2 linked regions of the Homo sapiens genome follow. The protein of the gene in region 2 interacts with the protein of the main gene of each other region in a pairwise test. Each region holds a gene or a part of one and is shown on either strand. Other genes may lie near its edges.

Evidence for each region.
Region 1: the proteins of ANKRD36 (region 2) and TSC22D2 interact in a two-hybrid assay, tested with the Homo sapiens proteins (one study listed by BioGRID).

What each region holds. Positions count from the first base shown.
Region 1 is NC_000003.12:150,455,206-150,470,880, reverse strand, and holds the end of TSC22D2 (TSC22 domain family protein 2), read right to left. Parts: intron 13,806-15,675; coding exon 13,754-13,805; exon of another isoform or gene 13,749-13,753; intron 12,506-13,748; coding exon 12,245-12,505; 3' UTR 4,459-12,244; downstream 1-4,458. UniProt on the Homo sapiens protein: Reduces the level of nuclear PKM isoform M2 which results in repression of cyclin CCND1 transcription and reduced cell growth.
Region 2 is NC_000002.12:97,103,655-97,120,365, reverse strand, and holds the start of ANKRD36 (ankyrin repeat domain-containing protein 36A), read right to left. Parts: upstream 7,214-16,711; 5' UTR 6,627-7,213; coding exon 6,430-6,626; intron 2,303-6,429; coding exon 2,188-2,302; intron 2,025-2,187; exon of another isoform or gene 2,023-2,024; coding exon 1,849-2,022; coding exon of another isoform or gene 1,843-1,848; exon of another isoform or gene 1,417-1,842; intron 1-1,416.

The sequences.
Region 1 (15,675 bases), on a different chromosome or scaffold from region 2:
GTGGTGGTGGCTGCCTGTAGTCCCAGCTACTCGGGAGGCTGAGGCAGGAGAATGTCGTGAACCTGGGAGGAAGAGATTGCAGTGAGCTGAGATCATGCCACTGCACTCCAGCCTGGGAGACAGAGCAAGACTCTGTCTCAAAAAAAAAAATTACAATAAGTTAAGGTTGATTTATTATTAAAGGAAAATGTTTTAAAAATAAATTTAGTGTAGCCTAAGTGTACAGTGTTTATAATGTCCACAGTAGTGCACAGTAATGCCCCCAGGCCTTCGTATTCACTCACCACTCACTCACTGACTCACCCAGAACAAATTCCAGTCCTGCAAGCTCCATTCATGGTAAGTGCCCTATACAGGTGTACCATTTTAAATCTTTTATACTGTATCCTTACTGTACCTTTTCTATGTTTAGGTACACAAATACTTACCATGTGTCACAGTATAGTATCAGTACAGTGACATGCTGTAGTTTTATAGCCTAGCAGCAATAGCTATACAATATAACCCAGGTGTGTAGTAGGCTAGATCATCCAGGTTTGTATAAGTACACTCTATAATGTTTGCACAATGACAAAATCCTAACGACACATTTCTCAGAATGTATTTCTGTCAAGCAATACATCACCGTACTAGTTACCAGGAATACAATTGTGAATAAATAAGTAGAAGTCTCTACTCTCGCAGAACTTACCCTCAAACGGGGCCCAGTTTGAAGTTTCTCAGCTGTCAAAGGGCAATGAGGGGATTCTCATTCCATTTTATACCACTCAGTTTCTGTCTCTAAGTACTGGCACCTTCTCACCCCAAGTTTCCTAGGCTCTTCACTTTAAACCCCCTATGTAGGGCCCAGAGCCTCTTCTCCTCCTCCCGCTGGACCTCCCCTCCTGGGGCTGACATTCTCCTCCTCCTCGTAGAACTCCCTTCTGGGGGATGACATTCTTGAGTATCCTGGGGTAGAAGATTGTTGTAACCTTTTTTCCCTCCCAGAGTGTGATTATCTGAGCAGAGGAAGCCTCCAGGAAAGCTGCATTACCAGATGAGTCAGCTGTCATCACAGCCATTACCTAATGCTGAACTGGGATGGGTTCAGGAAGCTGAAGTCAGTGAATATAAAACTAAGACTCACAGGTTTGGAACTCAAGGTTGCTGGAAGCAAGAGGCTGGCGGTGTTTCCACAGCTATTGCCAAGTCTCTACTTGTTCACTCTCTCCAGAGAACAGAACAGGGAGGTCTTCAAAAGTTCCATTTTAAAAGAAGCTGGTGTTTCTGAGAAGGGACTCTCCCTTTACAGTTTTTCTCAGTGAATGCTTTAGCACGAATAGACTACTCGGGGCAGGATGGAATAGGGGGAGGTGAGAAGAACAGGAGACAACGCTGGCTGGAGAATGGTAGGTAAGAGGAGTCATTAATAGGAGAGTCCCACAGACCTAGGTTCTCGTGCTGACTACCTAGGTTCTTAAGCTAATGTCCCAACACTGAAACCTCTTAGTGGGTTCCTTATGGGAAAGACCATTAAGATGATAACAAAATTGGTCTGCGTGAAGAATCAAGACACAGATACCAAAGGAAATAGAACACATCGGCACCAGAGTTGCTGATCTGTATCGCCTTGCTTAGAAGTATTGTTGCATGTTGGCCGGGCGCGGTGGCTCACGCCGGTAATCCTAGCACTTTGGGAGGCCAAGGTGGGTGGATCACCTGAGGTTAGGAGTTTGAGACCAGCCTGACCAACATGGTGAAACTCTGTCTCTACAAAAATACAAAAAATTAGCCTGGCATGGTGGCGCATGCCTGTAATCCCAGCTACCAGGGAGGCTGAGACAGGAGAATGGCTTGAACCCGGGAGGTGGAGGTTGCTGTGAGCGGAGATCGCGCCATTGCACTCTAGCCTGGGCGACAAGAGCAAAACTCCATCTCAAATAAAATAAAATAAAAAGTATTGTTGCATGTGCTAAATGTTACCTACCCCATGCAGCCTTTCTTAGTAAACTTCCTGGTTCATGGTCAGATTGTAAGGATAGTATGTCTAGTCTCTGTGTGGCAGAAAGTAAACCCAGAAAAATCCACTGCTCATTTCTGTAACTTTTCACTCTCTGAATCCGTGGGCTAACCGACCTGCTTTTCTTACCTGCAGTTGCTTCTTCTGAACTAGCCCTTTCTCTGCCCAGACATGGGCTTCCCACCCCTATTCCCTCAAGGTACTCTTCACTTAGAAGTTGCTTCCAGACTCAGCAGTAAACAGACAAATCTTCAGGTCGCCATTTCCTGTTATCAACTTTTTGGGGGCTTTTTCCTGGCTTCTCTCTACTAACACCTGAGTCATAGCATCCTAAATCAACTCACTGCATTCTCTTTTCCTTCTTCCCAGAATAAAATATCAGAGTAAGTCTTCCCTAATCATGCCTTATTTATTTTTATTCCTTTGTAGGTACTCAACTCATTATTTTGAAAACTGGGAAATAAAAGGAAAGAACTAAGTCTCTCCCTTTCTTATACAAACTGTACCACAGGGTAGCTGAATAGTTGGTAAGGGCAAGTCTCTCTTTAGAGAAGTATTTCGCTAATGAGTGAGAAGGGATAATAGAATTAATAGGCTAATGGGTCTAGGTAATGATTATCCATGCTTCCAACATCACAAAATAGAGACAGACATTATATGATGGAAGTATATACCACCACTTATGAATTAATCTTGACAAAATATAAATCTGATTAAACTTCTAGAACTAATTTAGGAAATACAGGGACAGAGGATTCTATAAGAATGCAATTAGGAAAACTCAGACTTCAGAAAAAACTATGGGGCAAATAACTGAGATTCTTGAAGAATTTCAAGATGAAAAGAGAGGTATGGGGAGCCCACATATTAAAAGAGACTTTAGAGGAATGCCAACCAATTGCAGTGTATGGACCTTATTTTGACCCACATTCAAACAAATACACCATAAGAAATTTATGATAATCAGGGAAATGTGGACATTGAGTAGATTTTTAGTAATATTAAGGAATTGTTCATTTTGAGGTGGGGTGATGGTATTTTAGTTATAATTTTTCTTTAAAAAATCCTTGTCCTTTAGAGGTATACGCTGAAATATATATGGATAAAGTCTATGATATCTTGGATTTCCTTCAAAATAATCCAGAGGATCATGGATTCTTTCTAAGTATTGGCATTCTCTCACCCCAAGTTTCCTAGGCTCTTCACTTTAAGCCCCATATGTAGGTCCCAGAGCCCTTTCTCCTCCTCCCCCTAGAATTCCGTCCTGGGGTTCACATTTTCCTCCTCCTCTTGGAACTCCCTTCTGGGGGGTGACATTCTTGAGTATCCTGGGGAGGGGAAATGAGTGGGAGTATAAATAATGCAAGATTGGCCATGAGTAGATAATTGTTTAAGCTAGGTGATAAGTACATGGGAGTTCATTATACAGTTCACTGTTGTATATGGTTGAAAAATCCACAACAAAATGATAAACAAAATTGTAAGGTAACCACTGGAAGAATGTATCTGGAATGTATAACTTCCCAACCAAAAGAGGGATCAAAAATGAATAAGAAACAACTGAATGAAAGCCAAGAAAAGGGAAAAAGGGTGTGTGTGTGGCAAGGCAGTGGCCGGTGCGGGGGTGGGGTGTCTAGAAAGCATTTTAAGGAGAAAACATGAAATAAGATGGCAGAAATACATCCAAATATGCCACTGATGAAATAGACATGGATTAAATTTTTCTATCAAAAGACAGATTGGGTTAAGAAATTAAAAATTCAAGCCAGAAACAGTGGTGGATACCTGTAGTCCCAGCTACTTGGGAGACTGAGGTGGGAGGATTGTTTGAGCCTAGGAGTTCAAAGCCAGCCTGGGCAACATAGCAAGACTTCATCTCTATAAAAGAAAAAAATTGGGAACACTTATTCTATTTCATGGAATGAAGTGTTGCCTGGTTCAGAAAAGAAAATTCAACTATATACTTTTTATAAGGGAAACTCTTTATAAAAAAAAAGTGAAGTTAGAAAATGAAGAGATAGAAAACTACTAGAGTAATGAAATGATCATAAAGAGAAATTAGGAGTAAAGCAGTTCAATAAGATATGGGATAGAATTAGCAACAAAGTGATCATCAATGACCTTGACAAGAACAGTTTCAGTGGCACAATGGGAGCTAAAGCCAGACTGCGTTTGTGATAAGCTGTACGTGGAAGAGGAAAAAGTGGAAAGGAAGAGGAAGGAGCTGAAAAAGCAAGTGAAGGGAACATATTTTCAGTTAGGGGAGGTGGTCTACTCATTTATTGGCCAGTTATTTATTGAGCCTGTATAAATACTGATGTGAAAAAGCCATGGGAGAAGGCGAAGTAGAAGAAACAGGTAGGGGGGGAAGATATTCCTGGGGAGGAAAGATGCTGAACATGATGAGACCCCAGGTACCAGGGGGAAACATTAGCAGCAGACAAGAAGAAAACACATTATTTTATTTTATTTCTAATTTATTAATTTGTCATTACACAAACAATACATAAATGCATATTCAAAAACATCAAACATTACAGTTAAAGCTAATGCACGCTACCAAACTACTGTTGACAGTTTGGTTAGTATCCTTCCAGACCTTCTCTCTATATAATACACAAATATGTACTTGTAGAAGTACACTATACAGTATTTGTGTGTGTGTGTGTGTGTGTGTGTGTGTGTGTGTGATGTGATTTAACATCACTAGTATCATATGTATTACAGGTATTGTCTTTCAATTTTTCCCCCAAACTTTTAACATTGTCTCCTGGAGATCCTTCCATGCCGGACATGTAGGACTCTCTCTTTTTCATTGATACTTAATACTTCATCATGTGTACCATAGTCCATCCTCTTGATGAGTATTTTGGTTTTTCCAATTTCATAGTATTACAGTAGCTCCCCCATCATGGAGGATATTTTCCAAGACCCTCACTGAATGCCTGAAACCATGAATAATACCAAACCCTCTATGTACTATGTTTTTTTATGATCTGATAATAGAAATGACTAATGGGCATTATAAAATGGGTATATAATGAGTGTATACATTGTGGATACACTGGACAAAGGGATGATTCCTGTCCCAGGCAGGATGGAGAGGGATAGTGAGAGATTTTTATTATACTATGCAGAAAGGTTTGAAGTTTAAAACTTATGTTCGTTTCTGGAATTTTCCATTTAATATTTTTGTATTGTGGTTGACCTTGGATGACTGAAACCTCAAAAAGTGAAAATGCAGATAAGGGGGTCTACTGTACAAGCAAAGGTGCAATTGACATCATTGTACAGGCTATCTTGTGAACACATGTATGTTTCTTTAGGACATTAAAAGTTGGAATTGTTAGGTCACAGGGTATGTGACTTTTAAAATTTAATGGGTGATACACAATTGTCTTTAAAAGAGGCTGTGCCAATTTGTATGCTCACTAGCAATGTATTCCTGTTTTTCCACACCCTTTCCAGCTTTTGATTTGTATGCACGCTAAATATTAGTTGGATCTGAGATGGTTTCTTGTGTTTTAATGTGCACTTCCCTTATTTTGCTGAGATTGAGCTTCTCTTTATAACCTATTTGTAAAGTTCTTTGCTTATGTGCATTTTCAAATGGACAGGGTATATAGCTTCATAGCTTCCAATTTCTAAAAGGGAGTAACCAAAAAGTAGAAGACTAACTGCTAGTCTAGCTAGAATTAATTTTTGTGAAAGATCTAACTTTATATTTCTTCTAAATTGTTATGCTATCCCATACTATTTGTTGAATAATCCATTTTTTCCTTACTAATTTGAAATGTCACTTTTATTACTTACTCAACATATTATTTGTGTTTCTGGATTCTCAGCTGTATTAGAGATTTATTTTTGGTATCAGTCACCTGAGTTATTCTTAACTTGGTTCATTAAATGGTAGCTGATTTTGTCAGCCAAGATAATAAGTGTCACTTGTTGCTTATGAGACAATAGACAATATAATTCATGACACATGAATCCTATTCTAGTTAACTTTGATTTAAATCAATTTCATTATCTACAACTTAGAGTATTAAAAATGTGTAAACTTTTCTCAGATTAGTTCCTCTTTTTTAGGGAATACTTCATAGGCTCGATGTCGAGGTGGAAGGCTTTTCCCCTCCTTCTAAAAGTATTATTTGATGTTAAAGCTTTCTGGTGATTTAAAGTTGTTTCCTGGCAATATCAAAGGATTTTTACATGGGATGGCAATATTACTGTTGATTTATAAAAACCTTTCATTTAACAAATGATATAAGGTTCACAAACTATAACATATACTCTGAATAAACAATATGGCACTTTAACTTTTACACTTACACTGGACTGAGCTCATTGGAGCACACAAATCATGTCCCATTCATCTTTCTATCCCCAAACATCCAGTACAGGTTGCAGCACCTAAATTGAAATAGAATTAAATTGCATGTCAACATTTTTTTTATAAAATAAAAAAAAGAAACCTAAATTTCTTGAAAACATCACTTTTAGGGTTTTACAAAGTCATACATGTTTCTTTTTATTAGCCACTGACCTGTTATTATTTCCATCTCAAGTGTGGGGAAAATGTTCCCTTGCTGTCTCTGATCTTCCTCAGGTATGATATGACCTATCTATAGATACATTGCATGCCTGTGAAATGACAGCAAGAACTGTGATCCGGATAACATTTGGATTGCAGCAGGCAAGAGTATTTTACAGTTGTTATATGGAAATATTGTAGGCATGCAAAAGAATGGAGAGATGAACTTAACTTTTTTATGGAGAAGTTGAACTGTGGCATTTGCCTTGTTTTAAAATTCAGTTGTTTTTATGATCTAAGTTAGCACACCTTTCCCTTCCCTCCAAGGGGATAAATATGGCTTCTGTGGACAATGTTGTAGTCTGTAAACTTAAATACTATGGACCCATGACAGTAGACAATGGGAAAATTCCCCAAACTGCCTAGTCTATCAGTTTCCCTGCTGAGAATGAAAAATAAAGCTAACTCACTCACCATCCAGGTATGCTGAACAAATTCAACAACTAAATGGACTGCGCCAGTGCAAAATACCAGCGTCTTACTTTGCCATCACCAATCTGAAAATCTGTCTTATTTTTCTTATTTGATGATTCCATGGCGGGGTTCGGGGGGGTGGTGGGCAAGCAAGAATGTCTGTGAACTTTAACTTGCTTCAGAGTGCCTCACTTAGCATTTTCATCTATGAACACAGCATGTCATACCAATTGTACTCCACAAAAGATATAGTTACAGTAGCACTTGTATAAAGTAATCCTTGCAACCTATGAAGGAAAGCCATACATTTAAAGGGATCTTGCTGTAGAAATTCTGTGAACTGGTACAGAAATACAGGACAAAGATGTATCCTGAAATATTGAAAAGGAGTAAATGGGGTGCAAGTATACATCACTAAATAATAAACTATTACTATTGCTAGAAAATAGAAATATGGATTATTAAGAGGCTTGAAGCAGAAGGAGGTGGGAGAAAAGGTCTGGTTTTGGATAGGCAGGAGACTTAGAAAAAAGAAGCCTGCAGGACTGACCTATGTCAAAGAATAAAAGGCTAAAGCCTAGCAAAACCTATTCTGCCTTGGGCTGTCAGTACCTACAGTGGGGGCCAGAACCTGTATTATCCTTTCCAGGGAGCAAGGAATAGATTTTAGGGAAAGGCTTTGGAATCAACATCCTAATCCTAGTCACCATAAAAGGATTCCATTTAGTTTACCTTTAGGGTAGAATTGAGAGACAGGCATAGTGACAGCAAAGGTTCCATTCCCCAACCCTTTTGTTAAATTCTTGAAATCCCTTTAAGGAAACAAAGACTTTCATTTCACAGATTTATAACTGTTGGAAGGAAAAGACCGAGTCAAACTTTCAAGTATGAGTTGGGACTCTTTAATCTTTTTTTGGAGGGACAAGAAAATAGGCAGCTGGGTGCGGTGGCTCACGCCTGTAATCCCAACACTTTGGGAGGCCCAGGCGGGCGGGGGAGATGACTTGAGGTCAGGAGTTCAAGACCAACCTGGCCAACATGGTGAAACCCTGTCTCTACTAAAAATACAAAAATTAGCCTGGCATGGTGGCACACGCCTGTAATCCCAGCTACTCAGGAGGCTGAGGCAGGAGAATCGCTTGAACCTGGGAGGCGGAGGTTGCAGTGAGCCGAGATCTTGCCACTGCACTCCAGCCTGAGCACAGCAAGACTCTGTCTCAAAAAAAAAAAAAAAGAAAAAAGAAAAAAAGAAAATAGGCACCTGATACCTGACACTGGGAATGGGATGTTCATTGTGGAGAGGAAAATGGTACAGAAAGACCCAAGACAAACTTCCTTCATGACCTTCACAAAATTGCCTATGTAATTTTGCCCTTTCATTTATTTTCCGGATTGTCATCCCTCCTAAATTATTTCTCAGCTTCCAGTTTCAGCTACTCTAACCTACCTCCCATCTGCCACTGGAATTGTGCACATCCAGCATAATTTGAGCATAGTATCCCATTGCTTAAAACCATTCAATAAATCATTCTTGCTTTCTGAATAGATGCCAAAATACTAGGTCAGTGGGGAAGTCACTGCCTGCCTGTCTCCAATGCAATTCTGTGGCTGCCCTAGGAGCCTTGTTTATACTTTTAAGCCATTGAGTTCTCTTTTCTTGTGCTTGGAACACCCTTCCCTCTGGCTCTTATGACCTTCAAGACTCAGGTGTCATGTTTTTGAGGAAACCTACCCTGACAAAACCATCCCTGACTGTACATAGTAACAAGTATTCCTCACTGCATTATCAGTTGGCTTATTATGTCCTCAAATTGTCAATTTTGAGGGCTGGGTTTTGTCCTTTTCATAGGATTATTAAAGAAATGTCACAAAGTGCTTGCCACTGAGCCATAAAGCTTCTTTTAAAAATGTGACTTCAAATCTTAAAAATTGTTTCCAGACAATTAGCTATTTCTGGTTCTGCAAAGATAAATTTTCAAGAACAGAGATATTCTGGTTCTATTAAGACTTTTTTTTTTTTTAAAAAAAGGTCCATGAATTACTGGAGTTTGCAACTTGGAGAAATATAATCATTCACCTGTGAAAATTCTTGTGAATAATGGCAGCTGTGATCCCCAGTCACTGGAGGCTTGATTATAAAACGTTATCTCAATACTTCTAATTAGCATAGGATATTATAAATAGAATTGGAAAAATTCAGCTATTTTGGACAATCAGGAGTTAAGGAAACTGTTTATTTAATGCCTCCTAACCCCTACTATTTGTTTTTGGTGTGGCAAGCTGTGAGATCACATCGGAACAAACTAAATTTTATTTGGGGAAAGTTAGGTTTGAATTGTAGACAATTACCGTATCAGAAAAATTTCTACTTATGATTTACCGGCTAAATTAAAACAGAAAAGCTTATGTGGGACCTTGCTCTATGGGCATTACACTGACAGAATTAGATAGATGGCATTCCTGTAAGACTGTGCCTCCAAATTGGGATCTCAATCAGTTAATATTTACAACTATTTGGAGCAGGAGACTAAATCTCCAAAGCTGAATTGGAAGTTACTTAAGATCCTAAACAATCAGCTGGGGGAAGGGTTGACAGTAGGGATAGTTTGGATTTTGAGGGGAGGGGATGATGGGAAAGCAGAGGGCAGACACCACAATAATTCTGCATTTTTGAACAATGGACCATGAGTTGAGTATCTTCTCCTGTCGTTACACTGGAAAGCTTATTATTTAAGGCTCTAGATACATACTGCCAAATTACTTTCTAAAAGTACACAGGAAAGCCTGTCTTTCTTTCTATGTTAAGTCCTGCTACTTAGGACACTTATTACAATTCGCCAAAAACATTAATTTGCATTTCTTAGGTTACTAGAGGTTGAACCTTTAGAAACTGCCATTTATCTCTTCTGTGAACTACCCATATTTTCTCTCCTTTTCTACTGTTTTTCTTAATATAAAAGTAGTAATAACTGCTGTTACCATTTTAAACCTTATTATTCATTTCCTTGGAGACTATTACTTTGTTTATGAAGTGTTTTTCCAGCCCCAGAATCAAAATGGAATCTATTTTCACAAAAATCCCATTTCTAAGACTAGTTTTTCTCCACCTGTATTAAATATCACATGTCACAGTTAGCACTGGAGGGGCACAGCCAGCAAACCTTTTCGGTTAACAGTCCAACAGTGAAGTTTCACATTCCATTAAGTATCTCACCTGTAGCAGCTCTACTTGGAATCTTACTACACATCCTTAGGGTTGCTTACTCAAGCCTATGTACTTAGTTCCTTGATTTATAATGTTATTCATTAACATTTTGTTCAATGTCTTGCAGCACAACTAGAATAGAAAATATTTGGCAATCTCATGTACATCCCAATTTTATGCCTTGTTTGTTTGTGGCTAATCTGATTAAATTTTTACTTCAAATAAGTCTTTTAACACGGAGAACTAACTACTGGTTCTCATTAACTCTGATTAGCTAGCTGGCTACAGATGCAGTGCATGTTAATTTCTACAGGCACCTTTCTGAATTCAAGTAAAAGTTTTGGTAGACAAGGATTTCCTACTTAAGTATCACTAACATAATATGAATATTGAGTACAAATATTGCTCACTATTTTTGCATTCTTTAAATTGTTTTACTTTGAAAATTTAAGAACTATCAGTAAGTCATTATTAACAGGTCTTTAAGGAGTATTTTGAACTGTGAAAATACAAATCTAGTCAAATTTTGAACACATATAGAGCCAAATATTTCAACAAAACTGCAGTTTAATTTCAGAAAATGTTAAAATATATATTTATACATCAATTTCTGACATACACTTAATGTGTTAGTATACACAAAATGATGCTTTCTTTTGAAACTGTATTTATGAAATGTACATTTTAATTTAAATACTCAGTATACACTGCACTTAATCTGCATGTTGCATTTATTAAATACATTAAAATCTGCAATGTAACAAAACGTTTTCTGCATACGAAATTCAAAACACCATTTTAAATGAACAAAAGATGGCTCACTTTTTTTTTTTTTTTTTTTTACAACTAGTGTATTGTACACTAGCTCAGCTCCACCAAACTACCTGTTCGTTCTCTTTTATTTGACATTGTTCACAGACTAGTACATATTACAATAAGAGTGCTGGATAAAAACATGAGGTACGAAAGTGGTTCAAAGATTATAGGTCATGCAGATCATGCTAGACAGTAAAGAAAATTGTGACTGAGAAAACACTAAATAAAAATACATAAAGAATGTGCATTATAAAAAAAAAAAAAGACAAAAAAAAAAAAACAACAAAAAAAAACCAAACTCCATTACACAGCTTTGCTTCTTTGGTTACAAAGTAGGTTGAACAATTTCACAGCTTTTTATTCCCACCCGAAAAAAAAGTCATACGAAATGTTGAAAAGCAGAGGAATCGTGGCAATTTCTCTTAGAAAGTAGAAACAAATGAACAAAGTTTTCTTCATCAAAATAGCCCAATTATTTATCATATCACAATAACTGGTGACTACCTGTACAGTTGCACTATGTTCTTCATACTTACACTATACAAAATTTACATTCAAGCTGGGTCTTTACTACTGAAAATAAATACCATAAGTAAATTGCCATTAGTGTTAGAAATATGCCAGGATTCTTTTGTTCAATTATTGCCTAAACGTTTTATCTATTAAATGCAATCCTGTCTTTCACTTCCTTTACTGATACTTATAATTATTCAAAAAAATTAAAAAAGTTCTGTGACATTGTTCATGTACATTATGAAAATAGCAGCCCTGTAATAAATAAAACACAAATAAATGAAAACTTATGTAGGCAAATGTTACTGAATCAGAAAGAAAAGTGGCTCTTTAGATGAACTGTTATTTATAATGTGATAGGAAGGCTCAGGGTAAATCCATGGGTAATAGGAAACATGGGAGAGCCACCAAAACTCTTAAAGACCCCACTCATGCGCACCAGGTAAAATGCAGACTTTGCTCGCTTTAATAAACCCCATCTATTATTCTCCTTGTGTACTGATGACATAGAACTGGACATCAACAGCGCTGCATGACATCTCAGAGAGAGGAAAAGCTCTTGTAGAATGATTGTCTAATACTGAAAAGGCCAAACACACAACCAAAGCATGGCTACTTGCTTTCGTATAAAGTGGAAAGAACACCAGTGGCACACAAGGATAGATTGCTTTCAGTTTTTTTCTTAATGAGGCTTAAGAAAGCTTTATGCTGAGGAGACATTCGGCTGCTGTGGAGGTTGCGTTGGCTGCGGAGGCTGTGCTATCACTGCTTGCTGTTGAGAAGTGCTACCAGGATTGGCCTGTTGGGTTGGGAGTTGGGATAATTGATCATTGCTTGAAAGAGATTTTAACAGTGCATTTTCTCGTTCAAGTAAAGAGTTTCTTTCAACTAATTCTTTTATTTGTTCCTTTAAAACTTCCACTTCTTCTCTTACTGCATACATCAAATGGCTTTTCACCAGATCCTGTGAAAAACAAAATTAGGAATGTCAAAAGAGTGAAAAGATAAAGGTGGTGCTATCTGGTTCTGGCCTACTTGGTGCTAAGTTTTTATACTAGTTTTCCTGCTCTTGCTTTTAATGTTTCTGCTTTATCTTGACCGAGCCTATGGAAGATGGGTTGGAAAAAATCCAGTTCCCAACCAGAGCAGTAAGCCCAGAATTTTCTTTTCAAAGTTTGGGACGATTTCCAAAAAATACTAGCTTCTTAAATTGTCAACTAAGCTTAGAATTAAAAAAAAAAAAAGTTTAAAATCACATGCTTAAAATGGTAGATAAAGAGAACAAAGGAACAATATTCCAACGGAAAGCTGTTTGATGTTAAACTAGTCATAGTACTGCTTTAAAGTGATCTGTAATTTTGGACTTTAAAATTTTGGTATTTTTAAAAAAATAGTTTGAGACTAACAGTCCTGTAAGGTCTCACACCGGTAATCCCAGCACTTTGGGAGGCTGAGGCGTGTAGATCACCTGAGGTCAGGAGTTTGAGACCACCTTGGCCAACATGGTGAAACCCCGTCTCTACTAAGAATACAAAAATTAGCCAGATGTGGTGGTGTGTGCCTGTGCTCCCAACTACTCAGGAGACTGAGGCAGGAGAATCACTTGAACCTGGGAGGTGGAGGTTGCAGTGACCCAAAATCATGCCACTGTACTTCAGCCTGGGTGACAGAGCGAGACTATCTCAAAACAAACAAAAATACCAACTTTTTTTGTAGAGACGGGGTCTTGCTATGTTGCCCAAGTTGGTCTCAAACTCCTGGCCTCAAGTGATCCTCCCACCTCAGCTCAGGTGCTGGGATTACAGACACAATCCACTGTGCCTGGCCTACTTATAGCTTACTTACAGTCTACTTCAATCAGACCTCCAGCTGTTTTTGCTTTAATACTCTTTTTCACTCTAAAGTATTTTCAATGCTGAAATATCTGGGGAACATATTGTCTTTAAATATGTATGCCCCCTCACCAATGGCCCTTATCAATGATAATGCATGAAATGTGAGATATTCAAATGGAAGAAATATCTACTTAAATAGTATTTCTAGACTAAAAGTTCTCAACGTTCTAGCATCTTCAACTAAATCTCATTATCAAAAAACATGATTTGGTCATCTTTGGTTTAAATAACTTATTTGTTTTCTAAAACTGACAAAAGCTAAGTGTTCCATACAACCAACAATCTATGAAATGGGAGAACTGTAAACTTTTACTTACCATTGCTTGTTCTATTTTGTTGTCAATGGCTACAACACCTCCCCCAGATGCACTGGAAAAAATTAGAATATGTTATTATTCTAAAAAATTTAACCTCCCTTCCAACTCTTAAAAGAATGTAAAAGACATTTGTGTTTCACTTAAAACCAAATATACAGTAATTTAAAATAGCTTATTCTGTTCTGACAATTTCAGTACTCAAAGCTCTCATTTCTAAAATGAAAGTCTCAGTAAATAGATGATTTCTACAGGTCCTTTGTAGTGCCAACATTTCTAATTTGCCTGTAATACATGTATGCTACTTTAAAACTAACTCTCAATTGTATTAAGAATTTCTCTGTTCAGTGGTTTTAAAAGGATACATTTTAAATGGGCAGTGTCTTCTCCGTATCTCTTAAATTTCTACATTAACCAACTATACATTCTAATTGCCTTTCATGTAGAAATTCCAATAATTACTTATTGTAGTAAAATTCAGATGATGGCTTGACTTTTTTTTTTCTAGTCCCTCCTCTTAGTAAGACTTTTCTGGTATAAGTTTTATACTTTAACATCTAGTTTTTTAAAAAAAACTTAATGGCTTCTAAAAATGGTTCAGAAAGTCTTTGGGTAGGATTGGTTAACAAGAAACTCAACATTCAGCCGGGCGTGGTGGCTCACGCTTGTAATCCCAGCACTTTGGGAGGCCAAGGAAGGTGGATCACTTGAGGTCAGGAGTTCCAGATCAGCCTGGCCAACGTGGTGAAAACCCATCTCTACTAAAAATACAAAAAAAATTAGCCAGGCTTGGGGCGGGTGCCTGTAATCAGCTACTCAGGAGGCTGAGGCAAGAGAATCACTTGAACCCAGGAGGCAGAGGCTGCAGTGAGCCGAGATCACGCCATTGCAATCCAGCCTGGGCAACAAGAGCAAAACTCCATCTCAAAAAAAAACAAAAAAAAAAAAAACAAAAAGAAACAACATTCTGGCAGACCTACATGTATTTGACTGTAGGTTACTTGCTGGCAAAAATCACCTATAAGGTATGTGTGGTTTAGATCAGTTCTTCTTGGGAATAACTGAAAAGTTATCCAGCCTGTAAGCACATTCCAAGTTCAAATATCACCTTAGCAATTGTATGATAATAACACAGAAGGCTAATTGTCCTCTTTGGTGGTTTATATTCTACCATGTATTAAGTAGTAAGAATAGCTGGAATTTATACCCTTTTATTGTTTTTTAATGAATTTTATTTCTAAAAACAGTTATTAGGTTTTTAAAAATTACTCTTGTAAAGAAAAATCTGATACTGTAGCTTATTGTATCAATACGAAAAGATAATTTTTTATATGTTACTAAATATTCTTCATAAAGTATACTCCACCTAAGATTTTAGTGCTAAAATACCTGGAAACTACTTTACTTTAGATGGTGTGGACCCATAATGTTGTATCAGATTGAGGCTCAGAAATATCCTGTCCTGTGATATCCTGCTATTCACTTCCTATGGGACATCAGCAAATCACCTATTTAACTTCCCTGGATCTGAGTTTCCCCATCTGTAAAACAAGGGGTTGATGTCAATGCCTCAATGGACTTTCCACTTCTAAATCCTTGAAATCTTGAATCATTACATGGGAAACTACGTTTGTTTATTTGAGCATTAACCACATTAATTACAGCATACTACCTTCACTTCTTGCTGCTACTATTTCTAAGATGAAAAGAGGTTTTGTATATCTAATATCTAGAAAGGATTTATGGATCATTAACAAATACTTTATATGTGCTGGGCTTTAAATGCTTTTAGTGAGCTGTGCAAAGTATGACTATATGTAACTATAAACTACAGAACCACTAAGTCAACCATAACGCTTTAGTATATACTTCAGTGCCAGATACCATGCAGACATATTCACCACAAATACTGAACACATTTTGGC
Region 2 (16,711 bases):
TTCAGTGTTTAAAACTGCTATCCTGATTATGCCACAGTTCTATGTACTTAACTGACATACTGAGGCAGTCCATAATAGAGCTTCAGCTTTAAAAAAAGGTTTAGAATTTTTTGCTATTGTAATTGAGAGAACCCCGCTTTTAATAATGATGTATTGACCTAATCACCAGAATGATAACAAAGAGACTCAGAGTCCTGAAAGAGTCAGTCTCTACTTATTAAAAGAGTCCACAATAGCAAATTTCTAATGACCCTATGAATGGCAGTGAATAAGTGATGGTGGCAAAGAAAAGGTGTTATTCTTATGCTGATAGATACTGCAAATAATAGTCCTTTCCACTTCCCAACCACAGAGGTAGAGACAGGTAAAAGTCAGGCCAATATTATTGGAAAGGAGAAATTTAAAGGAAGCAGCACCTATCTCCAGCTCTTCTAGAGATTTTTTGTGTGTTTGAGATATGGGAATTTATATTACACTTATCTATTCAGTGGTTCTTAACCAGCAGCGTATCAGTGTCCCAAGAAATGTTTTATTGTTGTTGTTGTTGTTGTGTTGTTGCTGTTAGAGGCAGTGTCTTAATCTGTTGCTCTGGCTAGAGGCACCACCATGCCCAGCTTCAAGGAAATATTTTAAAACATACATGCCCAGTAATATTTAATAGTAAATATTAGATTTACCATATTAAAATCTTCAGGGGATATCCTAGACTTAGAGATTTGCTTTTAATTTCCCCAGGTTACTGCCATGCACAATTCTAACTGCGAACCAGCACAGTTGATAATCACTTCAGTCTCATTTCTCACCCACGTGGCAAATTCCCTTTATCGTTTGGGATTTGGCCGAAAAGAGGAAAGAGCAAAAGATAGAGCCATTCACTGAAGACTTCATTTACTTTTCCTGGGTAGGGGTAGGGAAGAGACTAGTAAGCTCAAAATCCAACTTGATTTTACTATTTATAAGCTCCGTATCTCCCACCTGCCCATCAAGACATTCTGGACTTGAGAGTAGAGTTTAGATGCTTATCTGAGTGGCTGTTTCTGCCAGAATTGAATAATGTCCATTAATTATGTGTTCTTCTCTCTGCTGAACTGTGTGCCGCTTCATCACCACTATTCACTGCCAACCTGGTTTCCTCAGAGTCTTACCAAAATTGATCCCTGGGCAATTTCACAACTCACAAACTCTTTCCCAAAGTAAGAATAATCATCCCCAAAACTGAAGCGATCTTTGTCTAAACATATAAATTGAAAACAAACAACAAAACACACAAAAACCCTCTCCACAGTATTTTCCCTCATTACCTAATTTCCAAATTAGCTTGTGCATTTCTGATTGCTCTCCTTTTCTTCATTTTTCCCTCTTAAGCCTTTCCACAGAGGAATCACTTTCAAATGAAATCACCTTCACATACAACACTTTCAACAGCAACAACATGTACATTTATTGTGAAATTCTTTAATTTTCTTTGACATTTAAAATAAAGCCTATTTATAAGGGACAATTTTACTTTCCTGTGTCACTTCACACTGATTAGAAAAAAAGTAATTTAGTGGAAAAACACTTAACTATTACCTTTCCCAAATTCAGTTGTCATGAATTATAAATTTATTGTAATTCATTTGTTTTTATAGTTATTTACCATAAGTGCATGAAAAAAGGCTGTTCCCTATAATGCTTCTTTAAAAGTTCCAATATTTAAAGTAAAATCTTAGACAGTTAAGGCATTTCAAAATATTTTCATTCAAGGAATGTTTGAGCTTCCAAATATGAAAAATTGACCCTTACATGTGTCAATGTTAAAATAAATGCATTTCAGATAGTTTGAAAATAACATTGGTTGACCTATACCTTGCTGCATTCTTCAATATTTGTACCATGTGAAAGAAGTTTTTCTATCATGGATGTATCTTCATTATACACAGCGTAGTGCAGAGCAGTCCTTCCAAAGAAATCCGTAATATTTGGATTGGCGCCATTTTGCAGCAGAAGAGTTGCACAAGCCTCCTGCCTCAGTTGTACAGCCTGTCAGTATTAGACCGAGAAACATGCAAATACTGAAAAATCAAAATAAACACTCCGTAGGATTTCCTACTAGTTATATGGTGGTATTCCAATGAGATAAATTCATTTTATCCTATGTACTTCAACCAAATCCATCTCATGCTCAAAGAGTCAGCTACTATATACCTTGATCAGAGGTGTCCTGTCTTCACGGTCGCAGAGGTTAAGCTCACATCTTCTGGACACCAGGAGATGTACCATTTCCGGTTGGCCAGTGGCACAGGCCAAATGTAGGGCGGTCCTGTGAGAGTGACAGGACTTTTTAAAACATGTAACTGTAAGCATTAATTAGCATGTCATTTCTCTGTCTTCAAAACAAATATGTAATTTTCTTGTGAAGAAAGTACAACATTTGTTAGCGCTTATTACTCACCACATTAATGAAAGAGCAGGCTATTTAATAGAAAAGCCTTGGCTTTTGGATTCAGTTTAATTGGGGCTTAAAATTTACTGTAAGCTCTGTCACTTAGCTGTTATTTAGCCTTTCTTTGCTTCAATTTCCTTATCAATAAAATATATAAGAGAATAGTAGCTAGCCCACAGAACACTGCTGTGATGCTTACATAAGAATCTATGCACAGCATTTAGAACACTTTCTAACACAAATAACAGCTCAATAATTTTTAGATATTACTACCTACAAAGACATTTTAATTAAGTAAAATGATACAATCATATCTACATTGAGGTATCTATTAAAGATTAGATGTATCATTGTATTTCAGTCATTCTCAGATGCTCATTTTCTCACCATTCTCTTATATAAGCTACTATTCTCTTATATATTAACATCTCCTGACATTGGAATACTGTTTACAATTAATTGTTTATTACATTTATAACTGGCAACATTTTAAACATTATCTTATTGATATATAAAGTAATGTGGCATCACCCAATCCGTGATGCCTTACATTAAGTGGGATACAGTACATAGAACAGGCAGTTCTACTCATATAATTGGCACCTAAATAAAGTACTGTGGAAAAAGAAGGCAAAAATAAAAAAACAAATTTTTAAAACAAAGTAATTCTCACTTCAATTTAAAAAAAAAAATAATCCAAAGAAAACTCAGGATTCAAATGAATAGGTATGGCCCATTTTTTTCAATACTTACAGAATGTTATGTAAATTAGGTATTTGCAACGATTAATAGTAGTATTTGAGAGTGTCATAAGTTTCTGAAATGGCAGTTAAAGGTTATCTTTCACTATTTTCTAACTTCAGAATTGCTTTTGTTTAAAAAAAAAAAAAAAAGGAATAAAAGATCCAACTGGGATTAAGTCCTAACGCTTCCATTTTAAATCTCAGCTTGCTCAGGCTGGGCAGGTAAACATGAAGTTGTTAAGGGTGGAAGAGTCCTGAGAGATGGTGGAATCTGTCTGCTACATAATAGGTATTCAGGTTATGCTTGATGAATAACTGGATTGAAAGAATGCATACATACAGTTGGGAAGTTTATTATGAAAAAAACTATAAATTAAAGCAGTGCTTTTGGAATAGTGATAATCACTTATATTTGCTCATTTTCATTTTCATGAGGACACTGATAAACTAAAATAATTAATTTAAAATTGTTTCCTTATATGTAATAAAACTATAATAAAAACCTATTTATGTACTAAAATCTATGCATAATAAAATAATCAAGCACAAATAAAAATATTCCCTCTGCCTCTGAAGAGGCTAAAAGTTCACAGAAGATACCAATAAACAAAAAAATAAAAATAAGGCCAGGCACAGTGGCTCACACCTGTAATCCCAGAACTTTGGGAGGCCGAGGCACGGGGATCACCTGAGGTCAGGAGTCTGAGACCAGCCTGGCCAACATGGTGAACCCCGTCTTTACTAAAATATACAAAAATTAGCTGGGCATGGAGGCGCACACCTGTAATCCCAGCTACTCAGGAGGCTGAGGTGGGAGAATCACTTGAACCTGAGAGGCAGATTGCAGTGAGCCGAGATCATGCCACTGCACTCCAGGCTGGGCAACAGGGTGAGACTCCATCTCAAAAATAAACAAACAAACAAAGACATAAATAATAAAATAAAATAGAAACTGAGAATTATTTTTTCTTTGCAAGATTTATATTTCTTCTTTTTCCAAGGATAATTTCATTAATAAAAAACATTTACTAGAAGTTTTAAACATACTGATCATTTATACATCACAGATAAGAGAAAATATCACAATACACCTGCCAGAAAAGAAGAAATGTTACATTTTGTACACATATTTGGCTTACAAACACCATAGATTGTTTGTGTGTATGTATAATCAAACCAACTTTTTTTCAGAGTACATCTTCACACCTCAACATACATCTGTATCTACTGACATCTGCAAAGGTCCCATATTGTCCCATCCTATGGATGCACTGAAATTTATTGATAAATTTATAAAATTTATAAAATCCATTATAAGGGGTTTTCCAAATACATTGCTATTTTAAGCAGTGCTGAGAAAAACAAATTGCATGTATCTCTATTTCCTAGAGATATTTTAGTATAATGGAATTGATGGGTGAAGGGCACATACATTTTTACAGTGTGATACTTACCAAAAAATTGTCTATTTGAAAAGTCATCAGAAATGTAAACTTTCAACAGCAGTATATGTACTGCTACCCTTTACCCTCACAAACTTGTGATAGAAAATAGTATTTCATTCCTTTTTTAACTTAAATACCTTCTCCTCCCAGGAACACTAAATATTTTTTCCCATGTGCATAGGTTGCTTGAACATCTGAAAAATAAATGCTTTGCTCTATTTTAAATGAGAGTTCTTGTTTATTTGAAGAATTCTCTGTAAAATGAAAATCACTTTTTTATCTAATATGTATATACACATATTGTCTTTTGTTAATTTTTTCTTATAAACTGGATTTTTTTTATTTTGCTAAATCGACCTTCAGAATGTGTGCTTGTGATATTTGTAGGAATATAAACATGCATCAATATAAGTAGGCATTTGTGTTTTTTTCTGTTATCTTTCTTATTTTGTGCATTTAAAATTTTTAATCTACATTCCATAACGAATTTATTTCTGTGACATAAAAATCTAGCCAGATTTCTCCAAATAGTTAGCAGGCACTTCATTTATGAGTAATTCATCTTTTCCTACTAATATGAAATGTCACCATTATCCAATTCTATTAGATTGGTGCAAAGGCAATTGCGGCTTTCGCCATTACTTGTAATTGCGGCAAAAACCGCAATTGCTTTTGCACCAACCTAATAAATTCTTACACATATTGGTGTGTTCCTGGATTTTCTAACCTGTTCCATTCACTGATTTGTTGTTTCAGCTGTTAGTAAATAACTTGTGGAAATTAACAGCACATTTTCATATCTAGAAAGGCAAGTCTTTTTTGACTCCATTTCAAAAGTTTTCTTGATGTCGTCACAATAGTAAAAGACAGCATGAGTAATTCAAAAATGTTAACACTTTGATAACTTTATTTGGATTATGTAAAATTTATAAACACAGAAAGAGCTCAGAACTTTAGAAAAATGTGTCTTTCTATTCAAGAACACAGACCATCTTCCCACTTCAAAGTTTCCCTCTAAGGTCCCTCAGTGAAAACCAAATTGACATAGGTGTCCATTGATATCAAATAAATATTGGATTTTTATCCAAAGAATTTTTAGCCAGGAAGTTGATATATTATGGAAATGATTTCTCTCATTATGCACCTTTCCATAATGTATGTAACATTATGCTTTAAAATGTGCACGTTAAAAATAAAACGCTGTACATGCTGAATTTTATTAGTGAAATCACTTTAAAATGATTTATAAAGAAGCAGCATGGTGAGTGATTGGAAACCAGCTGAAGTTTTGTTTTTGTTTTGCTGCTTGTGAAAATGACCTGGGTGCTCGCCCCCGCCAAGGTTTCCACATCCCAGGTGCGGCTGAGCCTGCCAGGAAAGAAAGTCCAGCCCCTTTGGTGACAGGACTCGCCCCCCTCACCTCTGCACCCCTTTCCCCCACCCCATTCACCCCCACCCCTCACCCCCACCTCCAGTCCTCTATCCCATTGAACCCTCACCCCATCTCCCCACCCCACACCGTCCACGCCCCTACCCCCCAAGCCTTCATTCCGTCCACCTCAGCCCATTCACGCCCCCACCCCATGCACCCCCTACTCCCCACTCCCATCCCCCAACTCACTCCACACCCCGCCACCCCATATACCGCCACTCCCCAGGCCCCGCTCCACTCACTCCCACCCCAGCCGGGCACCCCCTAGCCCCCGTCCAAACCCCGAGCCCCGGACCATCCGCCCCGCAGCCCTCAGCCTGGAAAGGGGTACTTCTCCACATCCACAGGCCTCCTCCCGCAGCCCCGGCTCCCGGCCCCCATTACCTTTCCTTCCTGTCTCTCTTATTGGCGTCATAATACGTGAGCAGAAGGTACTTCAGTTTCTCTAGATTACCATGTAAGACAGCTCTGTGGATCCTCTTCAGATGATACGGTTTAATGGGGTATTGGGGAAATGCGAAGCCATCCGAGCACAAGCGCTCCATGAGGGTGGGCCACCTCTCCCGCTTGCCGTCTTCCATAATCGTCGGCTGCAAATTGTAGCCTGCAGCCGTATTTCAGCTCGCCTTCGGGGATCGCCGCCTCCGAAGAGCAACAACGAGCAAAGCAGTCTGTCCACGGACCTCCGCACAGACTCTCAGCGCCTCCCGCCTCTCAGCAGAAACGCCCAACAGAAGGGTTAGAACCAGCGAGCACGCGCACCTTAGCCGGCCCTGCCCAACAGGCCCGAGGCAGAGAAACCGCCCTAGCAGCTCTCGCGCGCCCAGTGCAGGCGGCGGTTGCTGCGGAGGTGCCGCGGGAGGGCGGGGCTCCCTGGAGCGCGAGGCGCGCCCTGCCCCAGGGCCTGTTTAACTGTCGCCCGCGCGCTCTTCTCTTCCACAGGCTCCCGACGCTCGGAGTCCCCCGCGCTGGGCCCTCTGCAGCCCAGGGATGGGGTTGAGTGGTGCTTCTCCGCCTGGTGCCACCGCTGGGCCCACAGCCCCACTTCGCCACTGCGTCGCCCCCGGGGTCCGCGCTGATGGGTGCGAGGCGGGAGGACGGGATCCGGGGTTGCCACAGCTGCAGCCAGCGCACCACTTGTAGGCGGCACTGCAGCTCGGGCTCCGGCGGGGGCTGGCGGGGCTCCCGTGGGATGGCCTCCTGGGCCCTGAGTGCGCCCCCATCCGGCCGGAGGGTGCGCGCCTCCTGCACCCCCGGCGGAAGCCCATGCCCGGCGCTCCTGCCGCAGACTGCCTGACTTGCCGCGGCCAGGCTGGCCCCGGGGTCCGCGCGGCTGGAGGCGCAGGCCTGGTCGGGGATTCCCAATCCTCGGGGACCCCTGCTCCATGTGCTGGTGGCGGCTGCAGCTGCAGCGCCCGTGGGCTGACGTGGCTTCCCGGAGCTGCGGCCGGCCGCGCCCAAGGGCCCCACAGGCTGCGCTGCCCTTGCCAGCTGCTCCTGACCCGCGCCCAGAGCGCAGGACCTGACGCTTGGCACTCTGCAGCCACGGGGATGAGGCTGAGCGCCTGTTTTCGGCCTCGTGGCGCCGCTGGGGCCACAGCCTGACTTCACCACCCTGTCGCCCGAGTCCTGTGATGGGCAGGTGTGAGGAGGGGCAATCGGGGTTCCCAAGGCTGCTGCCTGCATGCCACTCCGTGAGGAAGTTGAAATACGTGATCTCTAAGATTCCTCCCAGTTCTTCACCTCATGAGACAAATATAAATCAAGTAACATTCGCTATTGTGATTAGAAAAGCTGCATTTACACACGTTAGCCACTAGATGGGGACGTGCGATTGTTACAATGCTGAAGGTTTCCCGTATTTCTTTATTTTTTATTTGGCCGCTAGAGGGCACGCCTGCACTGCACTTAAAGCTGACTATTAAGGAAAGACAAAGGAATTCTTGGATTTTTCCATTTTCCTCATCACCTGTGCTTATCAGAGAATTCCAGGGGCAAGCTACCCTTTCCAATTCATCACTAATTTATAAACAAAATTCTAAGGAGTAAGGAATGCTTCTTACTTACTTCCTATAACATATTTAAGAATGAACGCTCAAAATAAAAGTAATTTATTTAAAACGTGTTGAGTAATTATAACTGCAAAATTTTTGCTCATGTTTTTCATATGCTGTTCATTTGCAAATTATTAGAAATCTACATATTCTGTTCATCTCAGCATTATTTATAACAGGGAAAAATTAGACACTAGCCAAAAATCTAAAAACAGGGAACAGTAAGGAAAAAACAAATGGTTCTTTTAATCATCATCACTAAAAGTGCTTGTGACTTAAAATAATGACATAAAAGATGCTTCTACGTTGTTGAGTAAAACATCAAGATAAATTTAAAATTCTATTTCAAGCTTAACTATATTCATTTAAAAAGAGAAAAATTTTAGAGGGTTTATCTTGTTGGATTATCAGATGTTATTTTTCTCTTTTTAATGCCATATACTTTTCAAATTTTCAGTGGGCTGGTATTACTTTTGTATTTAAAAAAGAAAAATATAAGGAAAAAGAAACCTGTCACACACTTTTTAGTGGATTTTACTGATCAGTCATCTCTGTATTTCTGGCATCAGCAAACTGAGCCAGAAACTCAGTGCCTCCCATTTCTTTCTTTTTTTTTTTTTTTTTAGACGGAGTCTTGCTCTGTCGCCCAGGCTAGAGTTCAGTGGCTCAAACTTGGCTCGCTGCAACCTCTGCCTCCCAGGTTCAAGTGATTCTTCTGCCTCAGCCTCCCAATTAGCTGGGATGACAGGTGCCCACCACCGCACCCGGCTAATTTTTCTATTTTAGTAGAAACAGGGTTTCACCATCTTGACCAGGCTGGTCTCGACTCCTGACCTTGTGATCCACTGGCCTCGGCCTCCCAAAGTGCTGGGATTAACAGACCTGAGCCACCGCGCCAGGCCAAGTGCCTCCCATTTCTTGTATTTACCTTTAAAACTCCTGCAATGAAGGACTCCCTCCTCCCTCATCTAACCTATTATGTGTGTGGTGAGTTCTGACTATGATATCATTCCTGATGTGAAACCGAAGTCTCTCTCTTCTAAGTCCATCCATTGGTTCAGTTCTGTCTTCTGACAGAGTCCACGCCAGACTTCACATTTCTCCCAATCGTCTTTGTCCTACAAGGGCTTTCTATTCTTCAAGCTAAAGAGATACCAGTGATTCCATTCGTTCATTCAGTTAACGTTTAGGGGCCACATCTTGTGCTATGTCCTGAGATTTGCCAATGAGCAGAGCTCAGAGTATTGAAAAGACAAACACATACACCAGGCATTTTACTATGCTGTGTTGTGTGCATGACAGGAGCACACAGGGCATCCAGGCACCAGTGAGAAGGGCCATTCACCAGACTTGAGAGGTCAGCAAGGGTGCTCTGAGGAAACACCTTCTAAACTGAGAGCTGGAAAGAGTGAGACAGGAAAGCAGTAAGAGGTAGCGTTCTGAGGAGGAAATCTCCGAGGTGGGACAGGGATGCGTGTGGAGAGAATGCCCTTCCCATCCCCACTCTTCATGAAGTCTCTACTCTGTCAGGGTCTCTCTGCCCTGTGAGCTGCTTGAGGACAAAGACTGTTTTATAAAAATTTTTATTTCCTCCCTCTGTCTTCCTTAAACACCTAGCCCAGTGCCTGGAACATAAGAAGCCATAATGAATTTTTGTTAGATGAGTGAAGAGTGCTGAGTAGAGCAGAAATGTCACATGCCTCAGTTTAAATATGGGTCATCAGTTTTCTTTCTTTTTTAACATAGAAGTCAAGACTTGATGATCTCTTACAGCTTCGAGATGCTATTAAAGATATAATCATCCTCATGTATTTGAGCTTTGTTTTCACCCATTATGTTATGACTGCTGTCCATTGTTCCATGACACAATTCTCCATCTTTCCTCATTTTCTTCCATTTCAATTAACTCATTTATTTACATGTGGGAATGGAACATACAACGTAAAATCCACAAGTAAGACTTCCCAGATCCTCAGCTTCTTTCTCTGGCATTAGCCACTGTTTCTACTTTCATGAGCATCTGCTATGGTTTGAATGTATCCCCTCCAGAAATCAAATATTACAAATGTGATAGTATTAAGAGGTGGGGACTTTTGGAGGTGATTAGGCTATGAGGGCTCTGCCTTCATGAATAGGATTAAATATGCTTAGAAAAAGGAATGATGGAGGAAGTTAGACTCCTTTTGCCCTTCAGTCTCCTGCCATGTGAGGACACAGCACTCCTCCTCTCTGGAAGATGCAGCCTTCAAGGCGACATCTTGGAAACAGAGACCAGACACTCACCTGACAATGAATCTAATGGCCCCTGGATTTTGGACTTCCCAGCCTCCAGAACTGTGAAAAAACCAAATTTCTGTTGTTTATAAATTACTCAGTCTATGGTATTCTCTCATAGCAGCCCAAAACAGACAAGACTGTAGGAAATCAATTTGTATTCAGCACATCAACAAAATTCTTTACAAATGGGACTCCCCCCAATAGGTGGGTGTCACTAAAGAGAGGTGCCCATAAGCATGAGACAATGACCACGTGGCATGAGCAACGAACTACGATGAATGAGCACGTTACCACCACTAAAGACAAAACTTACATGACTAGATGACAACAAAATAATTTCTTATAATGAATTTCTCATTGTATTTTTTCTTAACCTTCCCTCCATTTAGTCAGGAATCTGGCTCTGACTCACACCTGAAGGACAGACAAGGACTTTTGTTTCCAAAAGCATAAACTGAAAGGAGAACTCGCAGAGTCTACAGAAAAGAGAAAAGACATTTGTCAACAGGGAGTGTTTATCTTTTTTAACTGGAGGGAGAGAGCAGGGATGAGGAGAGGAGATGCCTTCGGTATTGGAAAAAAACAATATTGTAGAGTTTTCCATCCCGGTACTAACAAAATTATAAAGGCCAATAAGAAATAACTGATAGCAATAAAACAAGGAAAGGGGCATAGCCTAATACAGTAAAGAAACTGGTGACTCAAAGAGAGAAAGGAAAAGAACATTCTGGAGCAAAATAGAGAGGGTCAGCATTTAGCTCCTAAGTTCCTCTTCCATCCTCCAGCCCCACCCTCCACATCCACCTCCAAATCCGGTGATTTTGAGCATAGTGAAGCACACTGACACTGAAGGGTGTCCTTATACGATCCTTCACTTGCTGGTGACTGGTGGAAACAGATGCTGGGGAGAAACAGGAGAAACAAGGTGGAGGGACATCAGGGTGCACTTCCTCTAAGAGAAGTCAAGGCTACACATGGAATGAGGAAAGCAAACCAATGCCCAGGGGAGTCCTCATGGTACTGAAACAGGAAGAGCCATCTGTTGCCCAAGCATTCTAACCAATGCTCAGAGCCCTCAGCCGCCCTTTCCCTCTACTGTCTCCTCATTCCCTTGGGCTACCAGGAAAAGTGGAGATGTTAATGGGCTCCAATCAAAGGCCACCATGAACACATCTGTAGTTGAAGAAGTGAGTTATTACTGGTTAAGTGAGGGAGAATACAAACTACAGGGAACAGTGGGGTGTCTCACTAAGAGGACATCAGAAAGGACTTAGAGGATTTGGGGTTGTGTTAGGCAATAATCTGGGAGAAGGGTTTAAGGAAATGGGGCTTTGTTCTGAATTGGGTGTTGTCAGGAAGTGGGGGTAATTCTAGCATAGCAGGGTATCTTAATAAATCTTATGTAGAAAGATGTAAACCTGTATTAAAGCCTTAATGGGTTAAGGCTATAATTGGTAAAGAACGTTAAAGCTGTAGTTGGTGAAGAAACAGTAGTTACTCTTCTTAGCTAGAATAGAGACATTGGTCATTTGTGTGATATGAACAATGCTCATGCTTTGCTCATGCTCAGACATGATTATGAAGAGGTCTTGTTTTTGTCTTAAGTATTGGCACAAAATGATATGGTATGAAGCAGATGTTCTATGGAATTGTTTATGCTCACAAGAGAACATCAACATCCATCTGTGGGTGCCAGGCAGCTCACAGCATCGCCAACTCCCGGCAGATAGGACCAGGTCAACTCCTGGCTGCCAGACACACCTCTTCTCTTTCTCAGAGGAACACAAAATACCCAATGCTCATTCTGTAGCTCAACAGGAAAACACATTCTCAGGTGAGCTGGAAAGAAAGTCGCTCATCTAATAATGACACAATTTTAAAAGACTGGTCAATTCAACTACATCAAAGACAAACAAAACAAAATTTTTTGCATGGCAAGAAAAGACTACCACCACAGTCAGAAAACAAATGAAAGAGTAGGAAAATAGGTTTGCAACTTATATCATAGACAAAGGGGTGCTATCTCTCATATACAAATAGTTCTTACAAATTTAGGGGAAATAGACCAACAATATATTGAAAAAATTAAAAAGATACGCATAGAGATTTCATAGGAAAATAATTGGAAGTTGATCTTAAACATGTGAAAAGTTACGCAACATGGCTCATAAGAAGATAAGTGTAAATTAAACATATTTCTATGCTCTGTTGTTAGGTGCATACACACATGCAGGATTGTCATGTCTTCTTGGAGAATTGACTCCTTTTTCTTAGGTAATGTCCTTCTGTATCTATGGTAACTTTTATTGCTCTTTAAGGCTGCTCTGCCTGAAATTAATAGAGATATGTTGGGGGTGTTTTTGATAAGTGTTAGTATGGTATATCTTTCTGCATCCCTTTAATTTATGCAGGTGCATCTTTATATTTAGAATGTGTTTCTTGTAGACTACATATAGTTGAGTCCGACTTTTTAATCTACACTGACAATCTCTTTTATTTTATTTCTGTCTTCCCACCTTTTATTTTAGGTTCAAAGGGTACGTACGTGCGAAGGTTTTTTTTTCTCATATGATTTTTTATTATACTTTAAGTTCTAGGGTACCTGTGCACAACGTGCAGGTTCGTTACATATGTATACATGTGCCATGATGGTGTGCTGCACCCATTAACTTGTCATTTACATTAGGTATATCTCCTAATGCTATCCCTCCCCCCTCCCCTCACCCCATTGACAGGTCCTGGTGTGTGATGTTCCCCATCCTGTGTCCAAGTGTTCTCACTGTTCAGTTCCCAACTATGAGTGAGAACATGCGGTGTTTGGTTTTCTGTCCTTGTGATAGTTTACTCAGAATGATGGTTTCCAGCTTCATCCATGTCCCTACAAAGGACATGAACTCATCCTTTTTTATGGCTGCATAGTATTCCACGGTGTATATTTGCCACTTTCTTTAATCCAGTCTATCATTAATGGACATTTGGGTTGGTTCCAAGTCTTTGCTATTGTGAATAGTGCCACAATAAACATAAATATAAAGCATGTGTCTTTATAGCAGCATGATTTCTAATCCTTTGGGTATATACCCAGTAATGGGATCACTGGGTCAAATGGTATTTCTAGTTCTAGATCCTTGAGGAATTGCCACACTGTCTTCCACAATGGGTGAACTAGTATACAGTCCCAGCAACAGTGTAAAAGTGTTGCTATTTCTCCATATCCTCTCCAGCACCTGTTGTTTCCTGACTTTTTTAATGATCGCCATTCTAACTGGCATGAGATGGTATCTCATTGTGGTTTTGATTTGCATTTCTCTGATGGCCAGTGATGATGAGCATTTTTTCATGTGTCTGTTGGCTGTGTAAATGTCTTCTTTTGAGAAGTGTCTGTTCATATCCTTCGCCCACTTTTTGGTGGGGTTGTTTGATTTTTTTCTTGTGAAATTGTTTAAATTCTTTGTAGATTCTGAATATTAGCCCTTTGTCAGATGGGTAGATTGTAAAAATTTTCTCCCATTCTATAGGTTGCCTGTTGACTCTGATGGTAGTTTCTTTTGCTGTGCAGAAGCTCTCTAGTTTAATTAGATCCCATTTGTCAATTTTGGCTTTTGTTGCCATTGCTTTTGGTGTTTTAGTCATGAAGTCCTTGCCCATGCCTATGTCCTGAATGGTATTGCCTAGGTTTTCTTCTAGGGTTTTTATGGTTTCAGGTCTGACATTTAAATCTTTAATCCATCTTGAATTAATTTTTGTATAAGGTATAAGGAAGGGATCCAGTTTCAGCTTTCTACATATGGCTAGCCAGTTTTCCCAGCACCATTTATTAAATAGGGAATCCTTTCCCCATTTCTTGTTTTTGTCAGGTTTGTCAAAGATCAGATGGTTTTAGATGTGTGATATTATTTCTGAGGGCTCTGTTCTGTTCCATTGGTCTATATCTCTGTTTTGATACCAGTACTATGGTGTTTTGGTTACTGTAGCCTTGTAGTATAGTTTGAAGTCAGGTAGTGTGACACTTCCAGCTTTGTTCTTTTGGCCTAGGATTGTCTTGGCAATGCGGGCTCTTTTTTGGTTCCATATGAACTTTAAAGTAGTTTTTTCCAATCCTGTGAAAAAAGTCATTGGTAGCTTGATGGGGATGGCATTGAATCTATAAATTACCTTGGGTAGTATGGCCATTTTCATGATATTAATTCTTCCTATCCATGAGCATGGAATGTTCTTCCATTTGTTTGTGTCCTTTTTTATTTTGTTGAGCAGTGGTTTGTAGTTCTCCTTGAAGAGGTCCTTCACATCCCTTGTAAGTTGGATTCCTAGGTATTTTATTCTCTTTGAAGCAATTGTGAATGGGAGGTCACTCATGATTTGGCTCTCTGTTTGTCTGTTATTGGTGTATAGGAATGCTTGTGGTTTTTGCTCATTGATTTTGTATCCTGAGACTTTGCTGAAGTTGCTTATCAGCTTAAGGAGATTTTGGGCTGAGACAATGGTGTTTTCTAAATATAAAATCATGTCATCTGCAAACAGGTTAATTCCTATAAACCAAGCTGACCTAATAGCCATCTATTTGGCTATTTAAGGTTAAATATTGTTTAACCTTAAATATGACATTTAAGGTTAATATTGTTATGTGTGAATTTGATCCTGTCATTGTTATAATGTTAGGTGGTTAATTTGCTCGTTAATGGATGCAGTTTCTTCCTAGCATTGATGGTCTTTACAATTTGGCATGGTTTTGCAGTGGCTGGTACTGGTTGTTCCTTTACATGTTTAGTGCTTCCTTCAGGAGCTCTTGTAAGGCAGGCCGGGTGATGACAAAATCTCTCAGCATTTTCTTGTCTGTAAGGGATTTTATTTCTCCTTCACTTATGAAGGTTAGTTTGGCTGGATATGAAATTCTGGGTTGAAAATTCTTTTCTTTAAGAATGTTGAATATTGGCCCCCACTCTCTTCTGGCTTGTAGAGTTTCTGCCGAGAGATCTGCTGTTAGTCTGATGGGCTTCCCTTTGTGGGTAACCCGACCTTTCTCTCTGGCTGCCCTTAACATTTTTTCCTTCATTTCAACTTTTGGTGAATCTCCAAGACAATTATGTGTCTTGGAGTTGCTCTTCTCAAGAGTATCTTTGCGGTGTTCTCTGTATTCCTGAATTTGAATGTTGGCCTGCCTTGCTAGGTTGGGGAAGTTCTCCTGGATAATATCCTGAAGAGTGTTTTCCAACTTGGTTCCATTCTCCCCGTCACTTTCAGGTATACCAATCACATGTAGATTTGGTCTTTTCACATAGTCCCACATTTCTTGGAGGCTTTGTTCATTTCTTTTCACTCTTTTTCTCTAAACTTCTCGCTTAATTTCATTCATTTGATCTTCAGTCACTGATACCCTTTCTTCCACTTGATCGAATAGGCTACTGAAGCTTGTGCATGCATCATGTAGTTCTCATGCCATGGTTTTCAGCTCCATAAGGTCATTTAAGGTCTTCTCTACACTGCTTATTCTAGTTAGCCATTTGTCTAATCTTTTTTCAAGGTTTTTAGCTTCTTTGCGATGGGTTCGAACATATTCCTTTAGCTCAGAGAAGTTTTTTGTTTTTTGTTTTTTTTTTTTTTTGAGAGGGAATCTCACTCTGTCACCCAGGCTGGAGTGCAGTGGCACAATCTCGACTCACTGCAAGTTCCACCTCCCGGGTTCTGGCCATTCTTCTGCCTCAGCCTCCTGAGTAGCTGGGACTACAGGTGCCTGCCACCATGCCCAGCTAATTTTTTGTAATTTTAATAGAGACAGGGTTTCACCATCTTAGCCAGGATTGTCTCGATCTCCTGACCTTGTGATCCACCCGCCTTGGCCTCCCAAAGTGCTGGTATTACAGGCATGAGCCACCACGCCCAGTGGAGAAGTGTGTTGTTATCGATCATCTGAAGCCTTCTTCTCTCAACTCCTCAAATTCATTCCCCATCCAGCTTTGTTCCATTGCTGGCGAGGAGCTGCATTCCTTTGGAGAAGAGGTGCTCTGATTTTTAGAATTTTCAGCTTTCTGCTCTGGTTTCTCCCCATCTTTGTGGTTTTATCTACCTTTGGTCTTTGATGATGGTGACGTACAGATGGGGTTTTGGTGTGGATGTCCTTTCTGTTTGTTAGTTTTCCTACTAACAGTCAGGACCCTCAGCTGCAGGTCTGTTGGAGTTTGCTGGAGGTCCACTCCAGACCCTGTTTGCCTGGGTATCACCAGCGGAGGCTGCAGAACAGCAAATATTGCAGATCGGCAAATGTTGCTGCCTGGTCCTTCCTCTGGAAGCTTCATCTCAGAGGGGCACCTGGCCGTATGAGGTGTCAGTTGGCCCCT